Linked DNA regions of Homo sapiens: region 2 is linked to region 1. Evidence: fine-mapped expression QTL. Tissue or cell type: whole blood. Region 1 holds a variant in brackets; the other region holds the start of a gene. All regions are shown on one strand. Distances are from middle to middle.

Region 1 (8,000 bases):
AGAAACCAATGAGTCCGTAGTCTAGGACCAAGCTGGTGAGGATCTGATTTGAGTTAGAGATGATGGGGTGGAGGGCAGGGATCAGATTCAAGAGATGTAAAGGAATTATAATGTCCTCAAATGACAATAAATGAGTGCATACCTGCTTACATGAATGAATGAATGAGATGTGGACAGTGAGAGCATGGAAGGGGAGGATGCATTCTAAATTCTAGCTTGATTGACAGGTGGATCATGTGACATTCACAAACAGGGAACCAAGGGAGGGAAGCAGATCCAAGTGGCAAGATAAGGAGTTCAAGTTAAAGAGCGATACGGTCTTAAGGATATCTTCCTCCTTTTCAGCTTCATAATAATATTTTAAGAAATTAGAATCGTTTAGTGTTTCAGGACTCCTGGGGTGAGAACATTTGAAGTTGTCAATCATTAACAATCACAGTGATGGAGTATGCTTTGACACCACCTCCTAGTGGCCTAGCCCAGTGCTGAGCACACAGTAGGGAAGATAGAATAATCACTGGTCTTATTTGCCAAGGACCTGGATCTTAATTCCATGTCTGTCTTAGGGGCAAGACATTTAACTCCTGGGCACCTCAGTTTGCTCTTCTACCACATGTGAAAATGAATAAAACCTGTTCTGTTCACTTCCAATTGTGGTCGGGAGCCCCAAAAGCAGTGCATGAAAGTGCCCTGTAAGCTTCATTCAGCCACATCCGTGGAAGCAGTTGATGTTATTATACTCAGTAATAAATTGATATTTCATAAATCACTTTGATGTGGGTGACATGAGGCTGCCAGCCTCCTCTCCCAGGCAGTTAGGGTCCAGGGCTGAGCATGGAGCAGAGAGGATCAGAGGCTGAGGCTTGGGTGAAAGCAGGCAAGAAATGAGGGACTGCTTGAAACCCCACTGTTAAGGGGGTTAAGGATTTTAAACACCACTGTTAGGAAGCAGAGCCAGTTCTGGAGTGAAGAGGCTGCAAATAGGGCCAGTTATAACCCAAATGGGTGCAAGCGTTAACACTTGGAGAGATTTCAGAGGTCACAGAGGTGTTGGAGTGACACCTTTTATAGGTTGCCTGTGGCCCTGCTGGGAAGGGAGCTGTTAAGGTTCTTGGACTACCTGGGGCTGAGGGCTTTATGCAGACGCCGGAGACAGCCAGCCACCTTTGTGGCGTGATCTGGTGGGCTTCAGGAAGGCCTCCGCACACTGCCTTCCTCACTACCTGCTAATGATCCCTGAAAGTGCATGAAACATGCATTCCTTGAGCTATTCTATTATTACTTCTAATAATACTAATAAGGAGTCTGTATCATACTTCCAGTCTGCACAGAGCTCTCCTATGTATTATCTTTTTTGAGTCTCACAATGGCACAGTGAAGTCTTATTTCCCCCATTTTAAAATGAGGAAACTTTTCTGATTAAAAAAGAGAAAAATAAAGAAATTAAAAGATTTTTTTTTAAAGATTGGTTTTTGGAATGTGGGCTTTCAGAGAGGAACATCTAGGTCAAAATACCCAAAGACAGTGTATGATTTAAAATGCGGTGACTCCAAACCCATACCCACTCTCTCCAGGACAGTTATTCTCCTAACCATTTAATTAAGCCCAAAAGGCAACTTTTGATTTCACTGATTTTTCTAGGTGCCAGGGACACAGCAGTGAGTGAGACAGTCTATTCTACCTTCCAGGAGTTCACAGGCCAGCGGGGAAGCATTTGAGGCTCAAATAATGATGACCGTGGAGAGATTTTACTAGGGGCGGCTGAGGCTGCTGGACAGCTCTCAGCAGAAGTTGGCCAAGTTCACCAAGCTGCATTCGACTGCCTGTTTCTCTGAGCCATCTTAGCCACACAAGCCTGCAGTTATACTGCATTGACTTCTAATTCCTTCCCACCTGCTGCACCCTGGTACTTGCTGTGACTCCTTTTCTGGGTTCTTCATGCTGAACAGATGCGATGTGAGGCAAACCTCAGCTCTCTCATGTTCTCAGTGAAGTGCTCAGTTTTGCCTGGCGCACAGTTGGTGGTCAGTAAATTGTAGTAGTTATTATTAGAATTATTGCTTTCTTGTGATTATTCATGGTTGGAAGATCTGGAACTTCAACTAAAGGCTTCTCTCTCAACACAAATAGCCAGACCAAGCAATTAGCATCTTATGGTGACTTTTTTTTTTTTTTTCGAGACAGAGTCTCTGTTGCCCAGGCTGGAGTGCAGTGGCACCATCTTGGCTCACTGCGACTCTGCCTCCTGGGTTCAAGCGATTATCCTGCCTCAGACTCCCAAGTAGCTGGGACTACAGGCAGATGCCACACAACCACGCCCAGCTAATTTTTGTATTTTTAGTAGAGATGGGGTTTCACCATATTGGCCAGGCTGGTCCCGGACTCCTGACTCCAGGTAATGCCCCGGCCTTGGCCTCGCAAAATGCTGGGATTATAGGCGTGAGCCACCGCGCCCGGCCTATGGTGACTTATTTAGCAAAACTTTTCCCATTTGACAAGTAGCTAAGAGTCACCTCTTGCCAAACAAAGAGGAAGAGAAAGAGGAAGGCGAAGCCTCCAGGCCAGATCTTTCCTTTTGGCAGGGCCCAGCAGTTCAGGGGGACCAGGAAAAGGAAGGAGATTGGGGCAGTGCACCCACTTTGGTGACACCGGCAGCACGGAGGATGGATTGCACTTGGACAGAAGAGGACTCCCAGGCCATGAGTACCTGTGTGCCAGGCACTTCTCATGGATTACCTGTGCAAGGTAGATGCTCTTACCCGCACTTTACAGGTGAACACATCGAAAGTTCAGAGATCCGCCTGAAATCAGCCAGCCAGTATGTGGCCAAATGAGGGTTTGAAACCAGGACTGTCTTATTTCAAAACTTGTGCTCTTTCTAATACATGCTACTGTTTCCTGATGAGATTGCCACATTGCACAATGTGGCACCAAGGGGCACCATTCACATGGTCATCAGTATAAATGGCACCTGGGAATTGAACAGCATAGTGGCTAGGTATCCTAAGATCAGAGGCACGATCTCCATTAAATAGCAGCTATTGCAGAGGAGAAATGACGAGGACCTAACCTGGAGGGGTTGGAAAGGAAGGGACAACTTCGAGAGACATTTAAGAGATAGATTTGACAGAATTGGCAGTTGACTGGGTGTGGAGTTAAGAAATAAGGGAGTTGAGGCTGTCTCTGAAGTTTCTAGCTTAGGTGCCTGGGAGAATAGTAATGCCCTTATTGGTTAGGAAGGCAAAGGGGAAGGGGCTGTTGGGCAGAAAACATCACGGAATGCCACTTCCCCTGCTTACCCATTTGACCTGGGTTAGGAGATGAACTTGATTTAAGGGTACCACCTGGACCTGTGCTTTGGTTTCTTGCTTTTCTACTTAAGGTCAAACTCAGAAACAATCTGGGCCATTAAAAGTTCTTGTGCTTTTAGCTGTAGTTGACTAACCTGGTCCTGTCCTCAGGATTGACTAAATCCCACCCCCAGTGATGGGACTTGCCTGCTTAGCCCAGCTGAACATGTCCCCGGGGCCCTGCTTCCCCTAGACCTCCCTTGCAGAAGCTGCCCACAAGGTCTGCCCAACCTTTCCCTTATCCCTCCATGTTCCCAGACACCAGACACTAAAGCTCTACATTTCTTGGCACTGGACCCTGTGTGGTATAAGGCATGGTCGGCCCCTTGCAGCCATGGTAATCTCACAGTTTCCCAGACCCTCTCTTCCTCTCATCCTCCAACAAAACTACCTGAGCTCTAGGACCTCCACCTGTCTGGGGCCATGCCCAACTCAGCCCCCACTCAGAGCCTGTCCTTGCTCCCTGGCCCAGGCGATGAACAGGCTGTAGACCCATAAAGCTTCCTGCAGCTTGCAGTGAATGGATGCCTGTTTGTAAACCAGGACATTGGACATGGCACGTCTGCTGCAGAAAGTGAGGGGCGCCCTTCCACGTAGCTCTCAAGCCATTATCCGTGAAGCATTCCTTCATCTCAGGGTAACATCTGCCCGTATCCACTTGTGGCTCTGACCTGACCTTCAACTATAGCTATTTGGACCCTTACATACCATTGTATACACAAAGATTTGCACACATGTATGCACACATGCACACACACACACACACACACACACACACTTTTAAAAATGTTTTTCATGTGAAAGCCCAGTGATGATAAAGCAAGCTGTCAGGATTTAAAAA[A/G]AAAATACAATAATGCAATTCACAGAGGACAGTCAGTGGTTAGCACAGCTTCTACTCATGTTTTTACACCTTCTGGAGGTGTGACAGGGTGTGCTTGGTGTTAGAGTTGGCCACAGTGAGACCCCAAGGCATTAAGATGTCTTCAATCAACTGTCCTCAAAACAGCGTTGACCAAACAGCTTTTAGGTACCAAGCACTCTCTAGATGCAGTGTGAACTTCAAAAATGAGGCAGACATATCTTTGCTTCCTGGAAACACACAGCCCCCTGTAGAGAGAGACCACATGTGTGAACAAACAATGCAACATGGGGTCCATCACAAAGCCACCCACACTTGGAGTAGTGGAAGACCTGGTCCTGGTCTCTGCCCCACCACTTGGCTTTACCAGGTCCCATTTGCTCTGTTCTTCACCCTCATTCCCTGGTTTGGGACAATGGGAGTCGATTCCTGTTGGGAGCAGGGACCCTCAGGATATCCCTTCCTGGGATATTTATAAGAAGAGGATCAAGGTCCCCATGAGAACCTGTTCCACCCGAGGGACTGTTCCTTTCTGTCATTGTATGAAGGTTACAACCAGCCAGGCAGTGTGGCTGGGGCGGGGTTGGGGAGGCATAATGGGAGCCTAAGTGAGCCAGGTGTGCATTCTTAGGTAGGGCTCAAGATGGGTGGGCAGCGGAAACTGGGTGAACTTTAATCCCTTCCATTCCTGAAATGTGTTCGTTTTATGAAATATCTCTCTCCGCAAAATGTCTCCACCACTTGACTTTGGATTTCTAAGAAATGTTTCTCTGAATAGATGTAGAGTAGCATTTCCCAGATTGCGTTCTGAAGCACGCCACTGCCAGGCACTCATGGATTTTGGAGGAGAAAAAAAAACCCATAGTCCTGCTTTGTTCCATGGTCAGTGTGTTTGGGAAGTTCAGGGTTAAACAAAATTAAACCAGCTGCTTCACTGCTGGACTCTTTTCAGCCTTTAATATGCTAGTGATTATTACGAATCTTGAAAAGGCAGATATAATATGCATTGTTTTCCAGCCTTATCTGAGCATGGAACCTTGTCTTCATGAAATTTCTGTTGGTGTCACCTGGAAACCTAATGCCCTGAGGAACACACTTTGATAAATACTGGCACATAAGATGTTCATTGTTTGTAAACTAACGGTGGTCAGTTATTTCCCATATTCTTTTAGACAATAGTCTTCAATAGCAGCAGGAAAGTCTTAAGTTTAGATAAAAAGGAGAATTTCCTAACTGTAAGGATTCTTAGATACTAGAACCTTAGAGTGTCGTGGGAAATGGCAGTAAAAGAATGTGCCCCTCCCCCTTCCTTGTCCTTCCACAGGCTATCCCATGAGTCATTATAAATAGAATGAATTATCAAGGAAGCTTCTGGAATCTTTTTATCTTAAGAGGCCTTTGAAAGTTGCATAGAATTGTGGGACAAGAAGGTAGGAATAAAAAGGCAGGAAGACAGACTGGCTGACTTCTGGGTAGACTGTCTCTAAGTGTCTGTAATTAACTCATTCATTCTTACTCCGCCCAGAACATGCATTTGAAGGGAATACCTTTCTAACTTGTGGAACTGAAGAGGCAGAAAGCCAGAAGCTACCCCAGATTTCACGGTGGTCTTTCAGTAGCTGTCGTATTTGCCAAATAGGAGGCTAAGCTTTACATGCATCTTACTTGTTTCTTGAAATAACCTATAAGGTTGCTAATATTGTTTCTTTTTAAAAAACAAGGATCTGAAGCCCAGAAGGTTACAGACCTTGCCGAAAGTCAAACAGCCAGTATGGTAAGGAACCTGGATTTGAACACCAAAGCCTGAATCCACTATATCACCCCAGCTGCCACTGTGAATCTGTGGACATCCAGAGCCTCAGGGCTTCCTTAAAATGAGCCTTCATCCATCGGGCTCTGTGTGTGGGGAGAGGATGGAGTTGGGCTGATGTGTCTGCCCACAATGATAAGGAAGCCAGGGAAGAGGACATTTTCCAGCCCCTGCCAACCATGCCCAGCCAGGCCCCTTGGTTTGCCCACAACAGTCTGGCTCTGCCCCAGTCCCTGCACCCTTGCCAAATGCATCTTCTTCCATTAGCCATCTGCCCCCTTGTGCCTACCGATAGCCCACAGCACATGGGCAGCTGCCCTGTTAGAGAGATAGGAGATAATATCAGTGTAGGAATCAATACATTCTCTGGCATGTCCTTTTTCCCCTAATGGGAATGTGGCAGGATCCAAAATACACTTAAACCTTATCCAAATCCACTCTGTCAGGCATTGGTGGCTTCAAAGGAAGCTTGGTACCTCCAGTTTGCACGTGTAAGCTAATGAAGCTGGGCTCTGGGTAGGTGAGCTGAGGCCTGTAGCCTGAGGCCTTGGCAGTGTCTGGAGCTGTGTGGCAAGGATGCAAGGGTGGCGCCAGGGGCCTACAGCAGCTAAGTCTTCAGAAGAGGAGACTGCCTGGAGGAAAGCAATCTTTCTTCCTGGCCAGAAGGAAAGCCTAAGGCACTTGCCATCTGTCATGTCAGGCTGAGTGGCTGACGGGCTAGTCCTAGGGTCTGGAAGTCCTGTGTACCCCCAGGGTGTGGATCTGTGTGCAAGGCACTTGGAATGAACATGAAATGAATGTGATTTTTGTGTGAAAAGGTGGCCTGACGCACATTTGAAGGCATCTTTCCGGGAGCGGGGATCAGTGAGCTGAATAATCTACACCCTCTTGACTGGTTTCGCTGTACAGGGCCCAGGGAGACCTTGGGGGCCAGGGCTCAGAGCTCAGAGGAGGACACTGCCCCTCTCTATAACACTAACTGGCCTCGGTGCACTCACACCTGCAGGCTAACACGTGGCCCCACCAGCGTTATTGCATGAGGACCATGGGTTGCAGGGAGAACTCCTTTGAGCTTCTAAATGTCACTGCCTTTAGATGGGATTTCCCTGACTGCGTCATCTAAAGTAGCAGTCCCTCACCCCAAGTCCCATCCCCATAGCTATATGAAATGACGATGAATTTGTTTCCTTACTATCTGTCTCTTCCACTAACTGCAAGCTTCCTGAGGGCAACAAGTGTGTCTCTCTCATCCATATCCTCCATGCCTAGAACCATGTCTGGCACATGATAAATGCTTAAATGTGTATCAAGTGAATGAAAAAATTAGTGGTAAATGAAGGCACCACCCTACCCGCAAACCTTCAGGTTGAGGTTCTTAGAAAGCAAACTTGGTTTTGGCATTCCTCCACTGACAGTTCCCCTGGGTCCCATCACACATAGGACAAAGGGCACATTCCCAAGCCTGGCATCCTGACTCTTATGGTCTGGTCTCTGCTGACTGCCCCAGCTTCGTTTCTCACCATCCCTCTCCCAGGCCCCCTTGTATCCAGTGTGCTAACCCACACTTCAGGTGTATAAGACTTAGGGTCCTGCTGGAAATGCAAGCTCCTGGGCCTCAGCTCCCCAGATTCGGATTCAGGTAGTGTTAGGTAGGGTTCAGAAATCATCCTCTTTTTTTTTTTTTTTTTTTTTTTTTTTTTTTTGAGACAGAGCTTTGCTCTTCTTGCCCAGGCTGGAGTGCAATGGCACAATCTCGGCTCACTGCAACCTCCGCCTCCTGGGTTCAAGCGATTCTCCTGCCTCACCCTCCCAAGTAGCTGGGATTACAGGAATGCACCACCACATCCGGCTAGTTTTGTATTTTTAGTAGAGATGGGGTTTCACCATGTTGGTCAGTCTGGTCTTGAACTCCTGACCTCAAGTGATCCATCCTTCTCGGCCTCCCAAAGTGCTGGGATTATGAGCGTGAGCCACTGCACCC
Region 2 (8,140 bases), 350 kb before region 1:
GGGACCTTTTAACATTCGATGTAGTATTTGCAGCCAGCTGCGTTAAACAGCATGCTGCCATGAGACTTGGGGACTATGTGAACCACACACACATATATGTTTGCTCTTTGCCAATACTTGCCCATAATATCACTGGGCAAAACCACTGCTTACTGCATCCTTTAAAGCATGAGTAAACATCGAGAACATTTCTCCTTCTAACTCACTTCTGCTTCAAAACTGGTTCTGTGAGACATCTGCTGTAAGAATGAACCATTTATCCTCCAAACAAGTGACAAGAAGAACACAGAATTTATTTTCTTTTAATCTGGAGTTTAAGTACTCCGATAGGACTGATGAATTTTAATAGTCTTGCAATATGATATATAATCAGGCCCTTGCTTCCTTCAACCTAAGTTCCTCAAATGTGAACCCCAGCTTCAACTTAGGTTGTAAAGACTTTAAGCTTACCAAGGGCACAGTTTCATATTTGCCAGTTAGGATTTCATCTGACTCATCTGGACAAATGACAGGAGCAAATCCGATTTGCCAGAACTGTAGACCTCATTAACCCCTTCTCTCTATTGGTTTATCCATTCAACACATTTACTAAGAATCTCCTATGCCAAGCACTGTGTGGTTAATAGATTTTTTTTTTTTTTTTTTTGAGCTGGAGTTTCATTCTTGTTGCCCAGGCTGGAGTGCAATGGCACGATCTCAGCAACCTCTGCCTCCCCAGTTCAAGTGATTCTCCTGCCTCGGCCTCCTGAGTAGCTGGGACTACAGGTCCCATGCCACCACGCCCGGATAAGTTTGTATTTTTAGTAGAGACAGGGTTTCTCCATGTTGGCCAGGCTGGTCTCAAACTCTGACCTCAGGTGATCCACCCGCCTCGGCCTCCCAAAGTGCTGAGATTACAGGTGTGAGCCACTGTGCCCGGCCAGAGATTTTTTAAAAAGCCTATAGTCTAATTATGAACTTGAGATGAACCTTCAAGGGACCTTTGGAAAAGAAATGGTAGGTAAATTTAAGATCAAATATCTGATTTGCGGATATACCTGAGGCAAATACAAAGAAGGGAGAAGCTAAAATATAAATCCAGGAGAACAAGCTCACAGTCTATTAGTGAGAGCAGACGTGAAACAAGTAAGTGACCATAAACTCTAACAAGCACAAGAGAGATCCCGAGAAGGGAGTAATTACTTCTGTTGGGAAGGGACTAGATAGCCAGGTATGATAAACTTCTAGTAGGAGAGGTTCCCAAACAGAATTCTGAGCGGTTAATAGGAACTTGTGTATCAGTGTGTATGTGGGAGGTAGGGTGGGGACTCTGGGCAGAATTCAGTGTGTTAAAGGCACAGAGGTATGAAATGGGATGAGCAGAGAACTCAGTGCTGCTTGGTACTGACTGAAGGTGAGATGGACAGAAATGGATGATGGGTGAGGTGGGGAAGTAAGCAGGGAACTTGTATGCTGTGCTAAGAAGTTTTGGACTCGAGGCTGGGTGCGGTGGTGCACGCCTGTAATCCCAGCACTTTGGGAGGCCGAGGCGGGCAGATCACGAGGTCAAGAGTTGGAGACCAGCCTGGCCAACATGGTGAAACCCCATCTCTACTAAAAATACAAAGGTTAGCCGGGCGTGGTGGCGGGTGCCTGTAGTCCCAGATACTCAGGAGGCTGAGGCAGGAGAATCGCTTGAACCCGGGAGGCAGAGGTTGCAGTGAGCCGAGATTCCGCCACTGTACTCCACTCCAGCCTGGTGACAGAGGAGTGACTCCGTCTTAAAAAAAAAAAAGTTTTGGACTCAATATGAGGTCATGAAGGGGTTTTCAGCAAGGGTGTAAAGTGGTGAAGCTTGTTTTAGAGACATCACTCTGGCAGCCATTTGTAGACATATTGGAGGGAGCCAATTTAAAGGCAGGGAGATGAGCTAGAGGGCCGCTGCAATAGTTTCTAAGACATGGTGACATGATATGATATGTGCCACTCAGCAAGGTGACAACAAGTCACCTGCTCACCGTGTGCCTCAGCTGGCCCCATTTATGCAGAGGGATCATTATGAATGTGTGATGAACCTTCAAAGGGACCTTCGGAAAAGACATGGCAGGTACATTTAAGATCAAATATTCTTCTTAGTGGATATACCAGAGGCAGATAGATGGAAGAAATTAAAGATAAATCCAAGAGAACAAACTCCTTCCTGTGCGCTCCGACCACCATGGCGCCCAAGCACAATGAATCCTATCCGTCCTGCACAGCATAGCAGCTGGCTGTGAGGGATGTTTCAGATGAGAGGTTCTAGAGGTGGGAGCCCCATTTCCCAACCCTTCTGTTTTTTCATTCAAGGCAGCAGCCTCAGAGTAGATCAGCGGGGCCAGCCTCGTGGCCCTCTGACATTCTCCCCCTGTGGCTTCCAAAAAAGATCTGGACTGACCTTCCCACCCCTGGAGCTGAGCTTGAGAAGTCAGCTTGCCTGGAATTGAATTTTTTCAGTAGTAAAAAAGGTGGAGAGCAAGTAGTAAGTATCCCAAAGAACTCAACATCTTGCAGCAAGGGGAGACAGGAGAGTGGGTGGGGGCAACCAGGCTGAGGCTAACAGCAGACTTCTGTACCGGCAGACTTCGCTGACATTGTTGTCCACCCTGTGACTGGTAGGGACTCCCTGCTTCTAGGGGCAGAGGCCTTAAGAAAGGAAAAGAAAGTCAGAACCATTCTTGCAAGAAGGGGAGAAACCAGGGCCCTCAGGAGGCCACAGCCAAGACTATCTCCAGAGCCATCAGCAATCTCTCTGACCTGCCAAAAGCTCCTCCCCGCTTCCCTGGTTAATAGGATGAGATCACCAGGCAAAAGAATATGATGAAGCATTTCACTTATATAGTATTTTTCTTTCCAAACACTTAATAAGCCTCTCTGGTCTCGCTGATCTTGCATTCTTCCCGTGAAAGGGGCCAGGGATCCATGCTTGGCATTTCAGAGTTTGCGCGGCTTGAGAGATCATCTAGTCTGCTTCCCTCACTTTTAGAGTTATGGGAACTGAAGTCCAGGGAAGTGAAATCGCTTGCTGGGATCACAGGGATGCCTCTCCCTCCTCCCAGCCCCGTACACTTTCTGCTAGGCTTATGCTGCTGTTCCGTCCATTTTGCACAAGAGAGGGGGTTCCAGAGTGGGGGAATAGAGTTGGAATTAGAAATTAGTTTTGTGTCACTGGCTTACAGGTGCTCTTAAACCTTAACAGGTTTAACATCCTCTGTAAAATGGGACTAGTGTCACCTCAACACCTACCTTGCAAAGTTGATTATTGGGAATCACACTTGTGTAAGCGGTATAGTCTTGGCAAACAGTAGGTGCTAAATAATGTCTGGCTGGAGGAATGGAGCCCTGTTCGCATATGGCATTCATCCAGCCAGTGTGTGGAGCTGGGGGAGGGATAGGCACGACTCCTGAAGCAGGAGGCCCAGTACGCGCCCAGGCTAGCCAGCCAGCCCTCCCCGGGGAATGCAACGTCCAGAACAGTCTATAGTCCCGATAGTATGCCTCATGCGTGAGACCTGACCAAGGACGTCTGTGAACAAACCCTTCACAGAGAGCTTAATGAGATTGTGGGAGTGCTGGTGGTTGGGTGTGGGGATACAGGCCATTGAAGGTGAGAGGGCCGGTGTGATCAGTTTGGTGGTCTGCCCAAGACAGAGACTCTGCGGGTTGGATAAGAGGGAGCTAATAGGTTTGAGGGGGTCACGTGTCCCTTGCCCTCCCTCCTATTCCCCCAGGACTCCCTCTTCACCCAGCCTCCTCCTAAGGGCAACTCTGTTGTATTAGGATGAACCACACGGTGTACTGAAATGAACCGCGCGTCAGAAAGCGGGGTTGCCTCCTGGGTCCTGCCACTTGCTCCCCGTGTGTTCTTGGCCTGGTCCCTTCACCTCTCCTAGCCTCAGGATCTTCATGCGTAACATGAGATCCTCCCAAGATGTTGGTATGTATACAACAGTGCTCTGGAATGACTCCATGCAAGCTGTTGCTCTTCAGTCTCCTGAACAAGGTGCTCTTGTCTCGTCCCATGAAACCTCCACCTCTCCATCTTCCGCACCACTGAGGCCGCAGTCTCTTCTAACGGGGCACGCTCGTCCCCCGCGCTGTTTCCCGAATGCCACCAGGGGGCGCCCCTTGCTCGCTGAAGCCGCCGGGCTAATAACTCCTCGGGGCCGGGGCGGGCTGCCCCTTTGCGCAGGGCGGTGGAGTGTGCGGGCTGCGCCGGGTTCCCCACCTGAGGTCCGTACCTCGCAGAGCCCGCTTGGCCGCGCGCCCCTAGCCTCTGCCGGGCGCCGCTCCCCAGCCGGGCGCCTCTCGCTCGGCCCCGGGCCCCCGGGCAGCCGCAAGTTTGCCCCCGGCCGCGCGGACCCGCGCCCGCCCTGCCCGCAGCAGCCCCCGCCGTTCCCGCCGCCCCCGCCGCCCCCGCGCCTGGGCTCCCGGGCGACGCTCCGAGGGGCGCTGGGGGGCGCGTGCAGCTGCCCGCGGGGCTCCGGCCCGGCCCCGAAGGGGCGCCCCCCCGGCCGGCCGTGCGCGGGGCCGCAGCAGTTCCCCAGCTGCCCGCCGGGCGGCGCCCCGCGCCTCGCTGCGCTCCTCCCGCGCTCCCCGCGCCGGGCTCGCTCGCAGCCGGACACAGACTGCCTTCAGCTGCGGGCGGATCGGGCTGGAGCCGCCACGGCTGCTGCGGAAGAGGAAAAACGGCCAACAGCAGCCCCGCGGCCGGCCCGGCAGCGCCCGGCCCCCGGCTCAGCCCCCGGAGTGCGGAGCCGACCAGGTAAGGGCAGCGGCCCCCCGCGGCGCCCCCGGCCCGCTCCCTGCGCTGCCCCCGCGCCCCCGAGTCCCCTCCGCGCTGGCCCTTCCCGCACCCCGACTTCTGACGTCTCCGCCGCTCCTGCCCTCGGGGGCCGCGGCCCCGCACCCCTGCCCCGGCCCCCGCCCCCGCGCCCTCCTCCCCGCTCCCGCCTCCCGCCAGCCCGGTCCCTGGCACTTCGGTCCCTGCGTCTCCAGATTCGCCGCCGAACCCCCCACCGCTCTGCTCCCGTAGTTCCTCCAGTCTTCACCCCGGTCCGTCTCCCTCCCTCCGCATCCCTTCCCCGGGCTCGCGGTCCTCCCGCTCTGGTCCTCCCCCTCCCCGTGCAACTCCCAGCCCTGCCTCTGTCCCCTGCAGGGATGACAGCCCCTTCCCAGCCTGGCGCGTCTCCCCTACACCTCGTCACCCTCCGCTTCTCCCAGCGCCTCTGTTCCCCGGCTGCAGCCCCCCATCCCGGCTCAGCCTGGCATCCCACCAAGCCCCCTCCCCCTTTCCTCACTGCCATCTGCCTCGACTGCCCCCTGCCCCTGCACTGGACTCGGGCCACCACCACACCCCCCCACCCTGCACACCGCCTTGCTTGGGGGAACCAGCGTCCTATCAGAAATGATCCTCTTTCCCGGGGAGAATGGGGCTCCCACCCATCCCACCCTAGTTCATCCGAGTGGGAAGTGAGGGAGAAACTCTAGAGACCTGCAATGGGCGCGTGATGGGGGAGGGGGCTGGGGCGGAGGGGGAGGGGAGCTGATTTAGATTCTCTTCAGTGAGGACTGGCAGAGCTGTGCGCTCCGACCTGGCTGGGGTGGAGGGCGTGCAGGCGACAGCTGGGACAGGGGGTTCAAGGCACTGAGAGCACCTGTGTCTCTTTCCCTGGCTCCCTTGAGCTGAGCAAAGTGAGGGGAGGAGTTGGAGCCTGGGGAGAGTTGGCTGAGGGCCTTGGGGTGGTGGAGGAGGCGGCCGAGGGGGCTGGGCCCCGGGCGCCTCTGGCCCGTCTGCCTGGCAGTGGTGGGGCAATGCGGGCCGAGCCACTCCCGGGCTGGACCTTGGGCTGCGTGGCTCTTGGCATCTGTACTTGATGCTGCCATCTTCCTCTTGGTGCTGTTGTCTGGTGATGCCACGCGGTGCCACCTCCCTGCCTCCCTCCAGTGGCTCTCCTGGGCATGTCTCCCAAGGGTCTGGGTTGTCTGGGAAGAGGAGGGGAGCTCTGAGCACAGCTGGGCCCTTTTGCCAGGCAGTGGGCAGCTGTCAAGACCAGGCCAAGAGGTCTGAGGGCTGGTCAGGAGGACTGAGCCCTGCCAGGAACAAAGAACTACCTTCACTTTCACTCCCTATGGGTCACCTGGTTGGTAGTGACACTTCTAGGAGCACCGGGAAACTGCGGGCGTGGTATCTCCGGGGAGAGAGGCCGCCTGGGTTGGTAGTGGGCATCTGAGAGACAAATCCGGTCCTGCCTGACTCCCTGACTGTCTGTGCTCGCGTGGTCAGGGGCGAGGGGCTTGTCGAGGTCCACTGTGTTCCGGTCCCACCAGGGATGGCAGCCCCTGGAATTCCACTGGGCGTCATCATGCTGGCTTTATTTGCTGAAGCTGCAGCTCAGGCTTCATCATTAATCAGGTTTATTATTTTTCTCACTGGCCAGATGTGTTCCTCAAGGTCACGACCCTTCGGAGAGTTAATCTAATATGCACACATTACAGTGTCTGGGTTTGTTTAATTTTCCATATTTTGTTCATTCCTTGTGGCCCGGGCTTGCCCACCAGCCTCCCGCCTGCCTCACCAGCTCCACCCCTCTGTCCTCCTCTGGACCTGCCACCTGAAACCCAGAGGCAGCACTGGTCCCTCCGGGTGGGGAAGAGGTGGATGCTCGGGAGGGGAGGTTGAGAGGGGATCTTGGTTTTCTGTGTTTTTCCCATCCCCCTACCTGGGCATCTTGATCGGTGGCTGCTGTCTTCCCCAGCAATGAAAATTCTTCCGAGAGCCTGGGTCGGCTTCGTGGTCTGATTTCCACTTTGGTTTTCCCTTAGGATGGAGAGGGAACTTTAGTACCGGGAGAGAGGCAGAGACTCTAGGAGAAAGTCCCAGCTGCAGGGAGTCAGGGCATCCAGGAGAGAGGAGCTCAGCTGCTTCTGAGGTGGTTCTCAGCCATCCAGAGATGGAAGGGAGGACAGGGGGACCGGCCCTGGGTTGGGGGAGAGACTGCTCAGAAGGCAAGAGAAGCAGCGAGGCGGAAGCTGGCCTTTGTGTGGCTGGCGAGGGTGGGCAGCGCCAAGCGTGTGTGGGAAGGATGCATCTCTTGGTGCTTCTGCATAGTACTAATCCCTTATGTGTGTATGGGGTTCTGCAGCATTCCAGATGCCTCTCAGAACAATTACTTCATTTGATCTCTACTACAGCCCTGCAAGCATCTGATCGCTCCTTACAGACAGCCTTATAAGGAGGCATTCATGACCCAACAGAAACTGAGGCTCAGAGAGGCTGGATGCCTCATCCAAGGCTCCACAGCTGGGTCCCAGGCCCCTGGACGCTCAGTCCAGTGCTGTTGGGCTCGTTGCTGTTGCTTTTTAAGGTCTCAGCTGTTTGGTTCTCAGAAAGCCCACCCTTGGTCCTGCCTGTTCCTCAGTTCATCCCCTTCGCCCTCTCCAGTGATGGCTCACCGTTTTCACCCCCACCCCAGGCCTGGTGGAGTCTTTGCTCTGTAGTCTCCTCAGCCTTAGACTGGCTGCCTGGGTGTCCCGCCACTCCCTAGACCCAACCAACCACCCCCTACCCCAAGTGGGCACTGCCTCTTGCCTCCTCCTTGTGGAAAGAACGGCTGGGTTCCCCCAGGCATGCAGCCGGGGTGCCTGGGGCACCCTCCTTCCCTCTCTCTGGTGCCTTAGGCCTCAGCCCACTCAGTTCTTCTGGGCACTTCGAGTGTCCACTCCGACCTTTGCTCTCCCACTGCCGTGGTCCCTACTTGGGCCTTTGGCTGTTCACCCTGAGTTACGGTCCTGAAAGCTTCCTTGTTGGGCCTCCAGCCTCAGTTTCCAGCCATCCTGCCGCTGTGCCTGTCTTCTTACAGAGGGTAACGCTTCTCACAGGGGACCCTGTCTCAGCAGCCGTCAGTGGCAGTGCCTTCCAAGATGCCTTGCAGGTGAAGGCCCTCTGCACGCTGACCCCAACTTTATGTCACAACGTGGTGTCTGGCATGATCTTGTCCCCCCTCCCCTGGCCACCCAGCCCTGGCACTGTGTGTCCTCACCCTGGCCCTTTGCATTTCCTCCTCTTTTCCTCCCATCCATATATTGCCCAGCCTTCAAGGTGCTGCTGGAAGAGGAACCAGTT

Evidence for each region. PIP is the estimated chance that this variant, and not a neighbour inherited with it, causes the effect.
Region 2: it holds the start of GRIK4, and the variant in region 1 is fine-mapped to the expression of GRIK4 in whole blood (TOPMed, PIP above 0.99).

What each region holds. Positions count from the first base shown.
Region 1 is chr11:120,853,404-120,861,403 of GRCh38, forward strand. The region is part of intron 8 of GRIK4 (glutamate ionotropic receptor kainate type subunit 4); the gene reads left to right. Among named protein-coding and RNA genes, the nearest start is that of TBCEL, 170 kb to the right of the region's middle. The variant A/G (reference allele first, on the strand shown) is at 4,192.
Region 2 is chr11:120,507,108-120,515,247 of GRCh38, forward strand. GRIK4 (glutamate ionotropic receptor kainate type subunit 4) reads left to right here and starts at 4,641. Exons shown (of 21, transcript NM_014619.5): 1 at 4,641-4,780. RefSeq lists silencers at 4,252-4,331, 4,512-4,711.